Linked DNA regions of Homo sapiens: region 2 is linked to region 1. The links come from fine-mapping of genetic effects on gene expression. A gene starts in region 1. The other region holds a variant in brackets. All regions are shown on one strand. Distances are between the middles of the regions. Region 1 holds the start of SARDH (sarcosine dehydrogenase). Region 2 overlaps SARDH (sarcosine dehydrogenase).

What was found. PIP is the estimated chance that this variant, and not a neighbour inherited with it, causes the effect. A credible set is the group of variants that fine-mapping cannot tell apart.
Region 2: its variant is the best candidate, but not a certain one, in a credible set for the expression of SARDH in amygdala (GTEx, PIP 0.73).

The regions. Positions count from the first base shown.
Region 1 is chr9:133,735,426-133,740,787 of GRCh38, forward strand. It overlaps SARDH (sarcosine dehydrogenase), which reads right to left and starts at 2,927. Exons shown (of 21, transcript NM_001134707.2): 1 at 2,829-2,927.
Region 2 is chr9:133,665,836-133,671,197 of GRCh38, forward strand. It overlaps SARDH (sarcosine dehydrogenase), which reads right to left. Exons shown (of 21, transcript NM_001134707.2): 19 at 4,749-4,917; 20 at 900-1,035. Among named protein-coding and RNA genes, the nearest start is that of DBH-AS1, 11 kb to the left of the region's middle. The variant A/G (reference allele first, on the strand shown) is at 2,411.

The DNA.
Region 1 (5,362 bases):
GAATGCAAGAGGGAGCCCTCCTTCTCAGGAGAGAAGGCGCTGATGAAGACGGATGTCTCCTTGGGTGCAGGCGAGGCAGGACAGGCAGTCAAAGGAGTCACCATGTCCTGGGGACGCAGCAACCGTGGTGACTGCAATCCACACAATCAGCCTCCACGTTTGCACTGTAACTGAGCTCGTGTTAACTGAGCTCGTTCAAGCAAAGCTGTCTGCAGTAGGGCCTTTCCCCTGGAGAGGGCATGTGCACATTGATTTTACCTGTCCTCAAACTGACCCTTTGCTCATTCTAATAGTAAAAAAACACACCCCTCGGTGGAGATTTTAAGATGCTAATGAGGCCGGGCTCTGTGGCTCATGCCTGTAATCCCAGCACTTGGGGAGGCCGAGGCAGGCGGATCACCTGAGGTCAGGAGTTTGAGACCAGCCTGACCAACATGGAGAAACCCCATCTCTACTAAAAATACATTAGCCGGGGGTGGTGGTGCATGCCTGTAATCCCAGCTACTCTGGAGGCTGAGACAGGAGACTTGCTTAAACCCGGGAGGTGGAGGCTGCAGTAAGCCGAGATTGTGCCATTGCACTCCAGCCTGGGCAACAAGAGTGAAACTCCGTCTCAAAAAAAAAAAAAAAAAGATGCGAAAGAGACATGTGACGTATGAACAAACATGTACAGCTACCGCATGTGCACCCAGAGGACCAGCCATCACATGCTGCCTAGTAACCTCTTCCTCTCTTTCCACCCACTTATGAATAATTGTGGAAGACTCCCTGAAAGGGGGTTTCTCCAACAATCATCAATGCTGCCTCACACTCAGGAGCAGCCCCCCGCCTGGAATCCTCTCTCTCCCAGGGTGCATCCGCACCTAACTTTCAAAATGTTCTTTTTCTTTTGCAATAAATTGCTCTATGTTGCAGCTCTTTTGCTGTGTGTCTCATGTTTAAATTCTGTTTTGTTGTTGTTGTTGTTGTTTGTTTGTTTGTTTGTTTTGAGAAAGAGTCCCACTCTGTCTTCCAGGCTGGAGTGCAGTGGCATGATCTTGGCTCACTGCAACCTCTGCCTCCTGGGTTCAAGCGATTCTCCCACCTCAGCCTCTCGAGTAGCTGGGATTATAGGTGCATGCCACCATGCCTGGCTAATTTTTGTATCTTTAGTAGAGACAGGGTTTCACCATGTTGGCCAGGCTGGTCTCGAACTCCTGACCTCAGGTGATCCGCCTGCCTCGGCCTCCCAAAGTGCTGGGATTACAGGCATGAGCCACTGTGCCCAGCCTAAATTCTTTAAACTAAGAAGTTAAGAACGGAGGTCTCACAACAGCCCTCAATGGAAGGGTGGGGTGGTGTCCTGCCCAGTGTGGACCTCCACTGCCCTTTTCTGGGATCTGCAGGAAAAGTGAAAGGGATGTGGCTGTGATCCAAGATGTGAAGTGCTGTGCCACCTACGTCAGTATGAATGACTGATATAATTATCTAAGAAAGTCAGCATCCTTTTTCAAGAGTGGACCATAGCTATGCACGTTCGTTCACTCTCATTGAACACCTATAGACACATGATAATGTCTCTACTTCACAGCGGGGGAGTCTGACACACGGAGAGGCTCCCTGAGGTGACCAGGGTCATAGGGCCTCCATGTGGCAGTGCCAGGGACTCTCTCCTGCCCCCTCTTCTGACCATCCCAGGGGGACTCAGGACCCACTGCCACACTCTGTCCCACCTGAACTGTGGGCACTGCCCAAGCCCTGACGAAGCCCAGAACCCTGTCCTAGGCACAGTGGGGGATGTGAGGGGGATCCCAGCTCTCAGGCTGGTCAGGGCTGCCCCCCATCTCCTGCCCCAGTGCCCCATCCCAAGGGAGGGAGCAGGGAGTCTGATTGCAGCGGCGTAGGGGAGTGAGGAGGTGTTGGAGCTTGTCCTCAGCCTCTCAGCCCTCAGTGTGTCAGCCCGCCTGGCTCCTGCCTGCAGAGGTGGCCCCGGACAAGGAGGCATGCCTCCTGCATGTGTCTGTACATACCTTCAGTCCTTGAAGGTCCACAGTCTTCCAGGAGCCCCCAAAAGTGGTGCCCCACCAGGGGAAAGCCAGCTTGAGTGGCACCGAGGAAGGCCCTCCAAGGCTGAACACCCCCACCCCACCACCCACCACCCACCACGGTGCCGCATGGCACAGCACACCTGGTCAGCTGTGGGCAAAAGCCTCCCTCCTCCTTCCGACTGTGCCCAAAAAGCGACAGCTGCTGGCGCCGGAGGCTGCCACGTGCCCCTTCACCACCTGCCTGGTCAGTCAGGGCTCTTCTGACTGTCAGACTGGGGGCTGGCAGCGGCCCCAGCGGGGACAGCCCAGAGCCCCTCCTGCCTGCCACCTCCCTGGAAACAGCTGCCTCCACATTAACCCACTCTCTTGCCCCCTCCAACTCTGTCTCGTACCTGAGTCAGCTTCCCAGGAGTGAGGGCTGAGGACAGCCCTGGGCTTGGGATCAGACAGATGGGTGGGGGTTTTGTCACAGGACTGGGGCCTCGAGCAACAACTTAACCTCACTGCAAAGCAGAGGACCCAGGAACGCCCTCCTCCTCCCAGGCTCAGGGGGTGGTGGGGGTCAAGCGAGGAGAGCGCCTGGCACCTTCGCCTGGTGAGGGTAGGCAGACTTGTGGGGAGGAGCGGCAGGGGGCGGGGAGGCAGCTGCCCATATGGTGAACCCTGGTCCTGCTCATGCAGCTGGATGGTCCCTGCAGCCAGAGGCAGAGGGAGATCCCAGCCAGATCTGACCAGGCCCAGCCCCGCCCACATAGGGGAGGCCCCAGCCTCGTCCCTCCCTGGGGGTGTACCTCCAAGTACCTCTTGTCAGCTGCAGTGCCCCTCGGCCCTAAGAGTGCTTGGCCCAGCAGAGGTGCCTTCACCTTCTTGCTTCCCAAGCAGTGGCCTGGCCGGAACTCCAGGCCTCCCCCGCCCCCCACCCTCGCTGCCAGCCCCATGTCTCCGCCCAGGATCTGGGCGGAGCGTACCGCCCACCACTGCGGCTTCTAGGCCAGCTTAGTTGGGGCTTCTAGGCCAGCCCTGTGGGCAGCTCCCTCTGAGGGCGGCAGAGCAGGGTTGTGAACCCCATGCCCCATTACCCGTAGGCGACCTGGCAGTCACCCTTCCGCTCCAACCCTCATTTCCTCGTCTCTGAAACAGGCGCCTCAGGGTTGCTGCAGTAGACCCAGGCACCACCTGCCTGCTGGAGCCGCCCGAGCTCCCCGCGCCCAGAAGGAGCTATGCACAGGCAGGGTGGGCAGGAAAGGTGGGGTCAGCAGCAGCTTGGGCCAGGGGCCCGTCCACTGCAGGGAGGCTCCTTTGGTGAGGTCATCTCAGCACATGCCCCAGTTTGCTCACCCCCAGGGACAGGATGCTCACTGCCTTCAGAGGCGAGTGAGAAGGCCTGGGTCAGCTTCCCAGGGACAGGGTCTCCTGGTCTGTCTGCGTCCTGCTTTCCCGAGCTCCCAGACCCCTCTGGTGTTTGGGGAGATGCCCCCAAGCCACTGGCTACTGCACAGCACGTAGCCCCCAGGGCAGGGATTCCAGCCTCCATTGACTGTTGGGGACAGCAGTGCCCAGGGAGGGGGCCACACAGCAAGCTGGTGGAGGAGGCAGACCGGATGCTGCAGCCTGACTCTGGGCTGGGGCAAGTTACCCCTTCCCAGACAGAAGTAGACACCCAGAGGAGGGGTGTGGAGGAAACCCAGAAAGAATACACCTCTGGATGCCCAAAGAATCAGAACAGGTGCTGATGGAAAGTCACATCTCCTCCTCGCGCTGGATCAAAGACGGGGCATTTCAATGGCAGTCTGTTAATATTGTAATGATGCCAGCTGCCAATACCGGAAGCGATCGTATAGTAAACTGCTGTAATTAATACCAATCAAATCATTGTGTTCTTATTCACACCGAGGATGTCCGACTGTCTTGTTGCCAGCTTGTCTATCCTCTACATTTACTGAATGCCCAATGTGTACAAAGCACTGCTGGGAAACCTATAGTGACATCTAAGACCCAGCCCCTGCCCTCGAGGGGCTCAGGGTCCACGAAGCAGACAGATCCAGGGAGAGACACGACACCACAAGGCTGGCTTCCTTCCAGCAGGGAATCCAGGAGGACCTCTTAGAGGAGGGGGCCTGGGCTCTGGGCCTGACCACGTGCTGACACCATTCTCAGTCCCTGCCTCAAAGGCAAAGGGCCCACTGGCTTAGGCCCCTGGCTGCCCAGTGGAAAGCTGGCCCCGCCAGTTTGAGGCTTACCTGGGGTGGTGTGGGGGTCCTGGGGCAGAGGACCTCCTCTTTGGATGGTGTGGCTTGCCCAGTGGCCTGAGCTAGGGCTGTGCTCACCCAACAGGGTGACGAATGAGCTCAAGAGGGCAAGGAAGGAGTGTGGCCCAAGTTCTCCCAGGAGTCCTGGACGTGCAAGTGCATGGGAGAAAAACGCAGCAGTCACCACAGCTCCAGGGCAGTGGCCGGGTAGCCCACACTTCTCCTGTCCCTGCACTCAAAGACAAGTTGCAACTGTTGCAAAACTGTTACAAGCCAAGAGGGCAGCACAATGAACCTGCACTTTGGACAAGGGGTGGTGGCTGGGGGCCGGTCCCGGCCTGTTAGCTGTCTGTTAGTATCGTAGGATTTTCATCCGGCAGGGCCTGTTAGCACCCAGCTCCGGTCTGGGAGAGGTGGAAAGGCTGTCTCCCCCCAGGGACTAGTAGTCACAGCTCTGGAGAGGCCAGGCTCCGGACAAGGAGGCCAAGACAGGGTCCTGTACGATCTCGGGCTGGTCTTATCACCTCTCCCTTTGCTGAGACTTAGTTTTCCCATCTTGGAACAGGAGGCTGGAAGCCCTGCCATGTCAGTTTCACAGAAGCCTTGTAAATTTCCCTGAGTAAATTTCCTTCAGTCCTGCTCTAGATCACACCAACAGAGGGGCTGCCACCTCAAAGAAGTCACCCCACCAGGGATAAAATCTACTTGATCACGGTGCATGATCTTTTTAATGTGCTGTTGAATTTGGTTTGCTAATTTTTTTTTTTTTTAGACGGAGTCTTGCTCTGTCGCCCATGCTGGAGTGCGGTGGCACGATCTCGGCTCACTGCAACCTCCGCCTTCCCGGTTCAAGCGATTCTCCTCCCTCAGCCTCCCAAGTAGCTGGGATTACAGGCACGCACCACCGTGCCCAGCTAATTTTTTGTATTTTTAGTAGAGACGGGGTTTGACCATGAATGGCCAAGCTGGTTTCGAACTCCTGACCTTAAGTGATCCCCCCACCTCGTCCTCCCAAAGCGTTAGGATTACAGGTGTGAGCCACCGCGCCCAGCTGGTTTGCTAATATTTTGAGAGGATTGTTGCATC
Region 2 (5,362 bases), 70 kb before region 1:
CTACGTGTCCATCAGGGGCTCAGGCTGGAAGGCTCTGGAGCCAGGCCAGCACCTCCCGGCCTCACTTAGGGCTTAGGCCAAACGTCAGATCGGCTCCCATGGAGAGACACGACCCTCCTCACCGGCACCTCTACTTGCAGTGCCAGAAAGATGGGAAAAGGAGGTGGAGGTAGAGACCACCCCTTCCCCTTCTGGGGAGGCTGCCCACCCCCTGCCCCACCACCCCTGGCCACCCAGAGCTGTCCTGGGACTTGCTCCTGGGGGCAGTGCCTGCTCTTTCCAGCCTGTTCCTGCCTCCTGCAGCCAGGGGTCAGGGTCACCTGGAGGGGGTGGGGTTGCCTGGGGTCAGGGGTGTCGGGGGTGAGGAAAGAGAGGATAGGAACATGGGTCTCTGAGTCTCTAGTCGGTCACCCTGGGGGCCACCCCTGCACCCCAGGCAAAGGGTGGGCTGTGGGTGGCCTGAGGTTTGGGTCTCTGGTGTGAGGAGCTGGAAGGTATCAGCCTGGCTGGCTGGCACCTCCTTCTAACCAAAAAAAGCCTGGAATCACCAAAGTCGGATTCTTCCAGAAAGAAAACAGAGAGCAGCTTTGGCTCTGCCCAGGCACAGCTGGGGAGTCCTCCACCTGCTGAGGCCTCTTCCTCCCCCTTCTCCTTCTCCCTCCCTCCTCCCTCTCCCTCCTCCTCCTCCTTCCTCTCTCCCCTTTTTCCTTCCCCCTCCTTCTCCTCCTTCCTTCCTCCCCCTCTTCCCTCCTCCCTCCTTTCTCTTCCCTCCTCCTCTTCTGGACCACACCCGTGCCTCCTCCCTATGCCCGGCACACTCAGGGTGCAGTGCAGGGAGCTGGTTTGGAGCTGGTGAGGGATCGGCATCTGCCTTAGCAGGGCCAGAGAAGGGGACTCACCGGCCCACCGCTGGGGTCATGGATGTAACCGTAGGCGATGGTCTTGTCGATGGCGAACCCAAAGTCAGCCCTCCGGACATGGCCCACCACTTGGCCGTTCCTCCAGATGGCCTCCAGGCCAAACATGGGTACTTTGCTGGAAGAAGCAGTAGAGAAAGCTGGGGCCCCAGAAACCGCAGGGTGGGGACGCGTCCACAGCGGCCTGGAGGAGAATGGGGGGCTGCATGATGCACACCCAACCGTGGCTCCAGGCAGATAGGGCTGGCCTACTAGGACTACGCTGGTCCCCAGAGCCAGCCCAGCACCTGGCCTGGACAGCAGGGCTCGGGCTTCGAGTGAGTAAAAGGGATGAATAGAAAACATCAAAACCAGGAGTGGACTTTGCTGTTTCCAGAAGCGAGCCCCGTATATTTGGGAGGGCCCCTGCTTCCGATTTCCTTCCATTGTTGTTCAACTCTGGTTTTTTTTTTTTTTTTTTTTTTGGTGCAGTGGCACAATCTAGACTCACTACAACCTCCGCCTCCCAGGTTCAAACGATTCTCCTGCCTCAGCCTCCGGAGTAGCTGGGATTACAGGCACCCACCACCATGCCCGGCTAATTTTGTATTTTTAATAGAGATGGGGTTTCATCATGTTGGCCAGGCTGGTCTCGAACTCCTGACCTCAAGTGATCTGCCCACCTCAGCCTCCCAAAGTGCTGGGATTACAGACTTGAGCCACTGCGCCCGGCCAGGTTCATTTTTTTTATAGTACAATACATACTTTATTCAAAGGACTTTACTACATGTAATACATGAATGCTCACTGTAAAAGTTTTAAAGATTAAAAGCAGGAAGACAAAAAAAAAAAAGTAAGCTAAAATCAAAGAAAGGCCAGCACCCAGGGCTAACTGGTAACATTTTGTTGCCAGTCTGCAGACTTCTCCCTGTGCAATGGGTTATCACGGCGGCAGCTATGCAAAGGGGTCCCTGAATGGAAGGGCTGGGGTGATGTTGAGGGCACCTCCTGCATCCTCAGCCTGGAGTCACTGTTTGGGTCCCACCTGTCCATCAGATTAGGACGAGGCTGGAAGGAGGTTTCGTAAACATCTTTGGTGTCACCCTAGTTTCTGTTCTCCACGTGAGGACGCTGAGGCCCCAACTGCCCGGAGTCCCAGAGCAGTGTGGCAGGGCTGTTCTCTGTGACTCCACTGCCAGCATCTTCTCTGCGCCTGTCCTGGAACTGCAACAGTCCAGAGCCGCGGCGCAGGGCAGCTATTATGCAGCCTGACAGGAAACCCCTGAGCAGAGCGCACTGGGTCACAGGGGCCGTCCGAGGCCCTCCTAAACCCAGACATCAGGCTGCAGGTACTTCATGGAGGGCCAGAAGGTCGGGGTCAGGCAAGCAGAAAGGACCCATGGATGCTGACCTGTCTGCAAGGGGCCCCCTCTCCAGGAGCTGAGCTGATTCAGGGAGCTGGACAGGCTGTCACACAAGAGACAGAGCCTGACAGGCACCCAGGGAGAAGCCAC[A/G]GGATGACGACGACACGGCTCCACTCACCGTCCCTCTCCCTCCCTCTCCCTCCCTCTCCCTCCCTCTCCCCCACCCTCCCTCTCCCTCTCCCTCATTCTCCCTCACCCTCCCTCTCCCTCACCCTCATTCTCCCTCAGCCTCCCTCTCCCTCTCCCTTCACCCTCCCTCTCCCTCTCCCTTCACCCTCCCTCTCCCTTACCCTCCCTCTCCCTCGCCCTCCCTCTCCCCTCGCCCTCCCTCTCCCCTCACCCTCACCCTCCCTCTCCCTCACCCTCCCTCTCCCTCACCCTCCCTCTCCCTCACCCTCCCTCTCCCCTCACCCTCCCTCTCCCTCACCCTCCCTCTCCCTCACCCTCCCTCTCCCCTTACCCTCCCCCTCCCTCTCCCTCACCTTCCCTCTCCCCTACCCTCCCTCTCCCTCACCCTCCCTCTCCCCTCACCCTCCCTCTCCCTCACCCTCCCTCTCCCTCACCCTCCCTCTCCCCTTACCCTCCCCCTCCCTCTCCCTCACCTTCCCTCTCCCCTACCCTCCCTCTCCCTCACCCTCCCTCTCCCTCACCCTCCATCTCCCCTCACCCTCCCTCTCCCCTCACCCTCCCTCTCCCTCACCCTCCATCTCCCCTCACCCTCCCTCTCCCTCACCCTCCCTCTCCCTCACCCTCCCTCTCTCTCTCCTTCCCTCTCCCTTACCCTCCCTCTCCCTCACCTTCCCTCTCCCTCACCTTCCCTCTCCCTCACCCTCCATCTCCCTCACCCTCCCTCTCCCCTTACCCTCCCTCTCCCTCACCTTCCCTCTCCCTTACCCTCCCTCTCCCTCACCCTCCATCTCCCCTCACCCTCCCTCTCCCTCACCCTCCCTCTCCCTCACCCTCCCTCTCTCTCTCCTTCCCTCTCCCTTACCCTCCCTCTCCCTCACCTTCCCTCTCCCTCACCTTCCCTCTCCCTCACCCTCCATCTCCCTCACCCTCCCTCTCCCTTACCCTCCCTCTCCCTCACCCTCCCTCTCCCCTCACCCTCCCTCTCCCCTCACCCTCCCTCTCCCTCACCCTCCCTCTCCCCTCATCCTCCCTCACCCTCCCTCTCCCTCGTCCTCCCTCTCCCTCCCCTCGTCACTCTGACACTCCTTTTGAAGGCTCCAGAAATCTGGGAGAAGTGGCAGTGTTTGCAGCTGGCTGTCAGCTCCATGTCCACAGAGCCCAAAGCCGCCCACTTCCCCGGATACCTGTGCTTCAGACCCCCGTGGGCACCACGGGAGGGCCTCTGATCAGGGCCTGATCTTCTCAGACTGCCCTGCAACCCAAGTGGGACTCGGGTTCCTGGAATCCAAACTCTCCCAGTAGCCCAGGGATCACGTGCGCCGGGCTCCAGCAGCATGCTCAAAGCCACTCTCAGTGGGGAGAGCAGGAGGTCAGGTCGCCCCCAGGCAGAGTCTCTCCTTCCACCTCTGCCGTGTGACTGGGCGTGAGTCCCCTGCTCCTTGGCACCATGTGGTCTCCATTCGTGAGTGGGGATGACGGCCCCAGCCGAGCCCCTCTCCCCCTATCACAGGGCTGTGGGGAGACTGAACCAGAACGGGATGGGAGGTCGTGTTGCAGTGACTGGGAGGTCAGGCTCCCTGGGTTCACCCTCCCAAGGCCCTCGGCCTAGACCTGCCACAGAGGGGTGGCCTGGGCTTGGCTGCACCTTTCTCTTTTGAGACCTGCATGGGAAGAGTGTGGAGCCTTCTCTACCTCCCCACGGGCCCTGCTGGCCTGGGAGGGGCCCCAGGTGCGCAACCTTACACTGGCCTGGTTTGAATCCCAGCATGTTGGGATCCTCACGCTTGTAATCCCAGCACTTTGGGAGGCCGAGGCAGGCAGATCACGAGGTCAGGAGAGTTCAAGACCAGCCTGGCCAACATGGTGAAACCCCATCTCTACTAAAAGTACAAAAATTAGCTGGGTGTGGTAGTGCACGCCTGTAATCCCAGCTACTTGGGAGGCTGAGGCAGGAGAATCACTTGAACCTGGGAGGCGGAGGTTGCAGTGAGCCGAGATTGCGCCACTGCACTCCGGCCTGGGCAATAGAGTGAGACTCCGTCTCAAAAAAAAAAAAAAAAAAAAGAGCAAACTCTCTCTGCCTTTCTGCCTTTAACAACATGTGACCTGGCCAGATGGCCTCTCTCTTTGGCCTCGATTTCCTTATCTGCAGTGGGCTGTTGGGTGCGTTCTGGAAGAGCATGGCTGGCACATGGGAAGTGTTGGTACCAGGGGCTTTGAGTGGGGGACCAAGAAGCGCCTGCCTGCCCTGGCTGTAGGCAGTTGCTTCCGGGTGGGCGTGGAACAGCGGGATACTCACTCCTCCATGGTGAAGCACACCAGGCGCCGGCGGAGGCCTGCGGCCCGCTGCTGCTCCAGGGCCTCCCTCCCCAGGAAGGGCACCGGCGACTTGAGCTTGCAGGTGAAGGCCAGGCCTGCCTCCAGGGGGCTGTCGTCTGGCCGCAGGTCCGCGTGCCAGTGCCGGTAGCCTGTGGGAAGGGAATCCATGGGGTCGGTGCCACCCTGAGGGGGATAAGCCCTTCAGGAGATGCATGAGGATGCTGCCTAAACCCACCCCCTCCAGCCCCTAGCCACACTCTCAGAGCTGCTTAGTCACCTGGGCAGGAGGCAGGGGCATCCCCAACTCCAGAAGGTTCCCTGGGGCGACCGCTCCCCCGAGCAGACTGCCCATCAGCACTGCAGCCCTCTGCACCCTCAGGTGGGGGCGTCAGGGAGGGGCTTGTGAAGGGGGAGCTTCCCAATGCCCAAGCTGGGTGCCCAACACCCAGGGGAGCTGCCTGACGCCCAAGCTGGGTGCCCAACACGCTGGGGAACCGCCCAAAGCCCGCTCTGAGCCTTCATCCTTGCTCTGGACAGGGTCTGGGCTTCTTCCAGAGGCCACAGCACCTGCTCCCTGGCTCCATTCTTCACAGC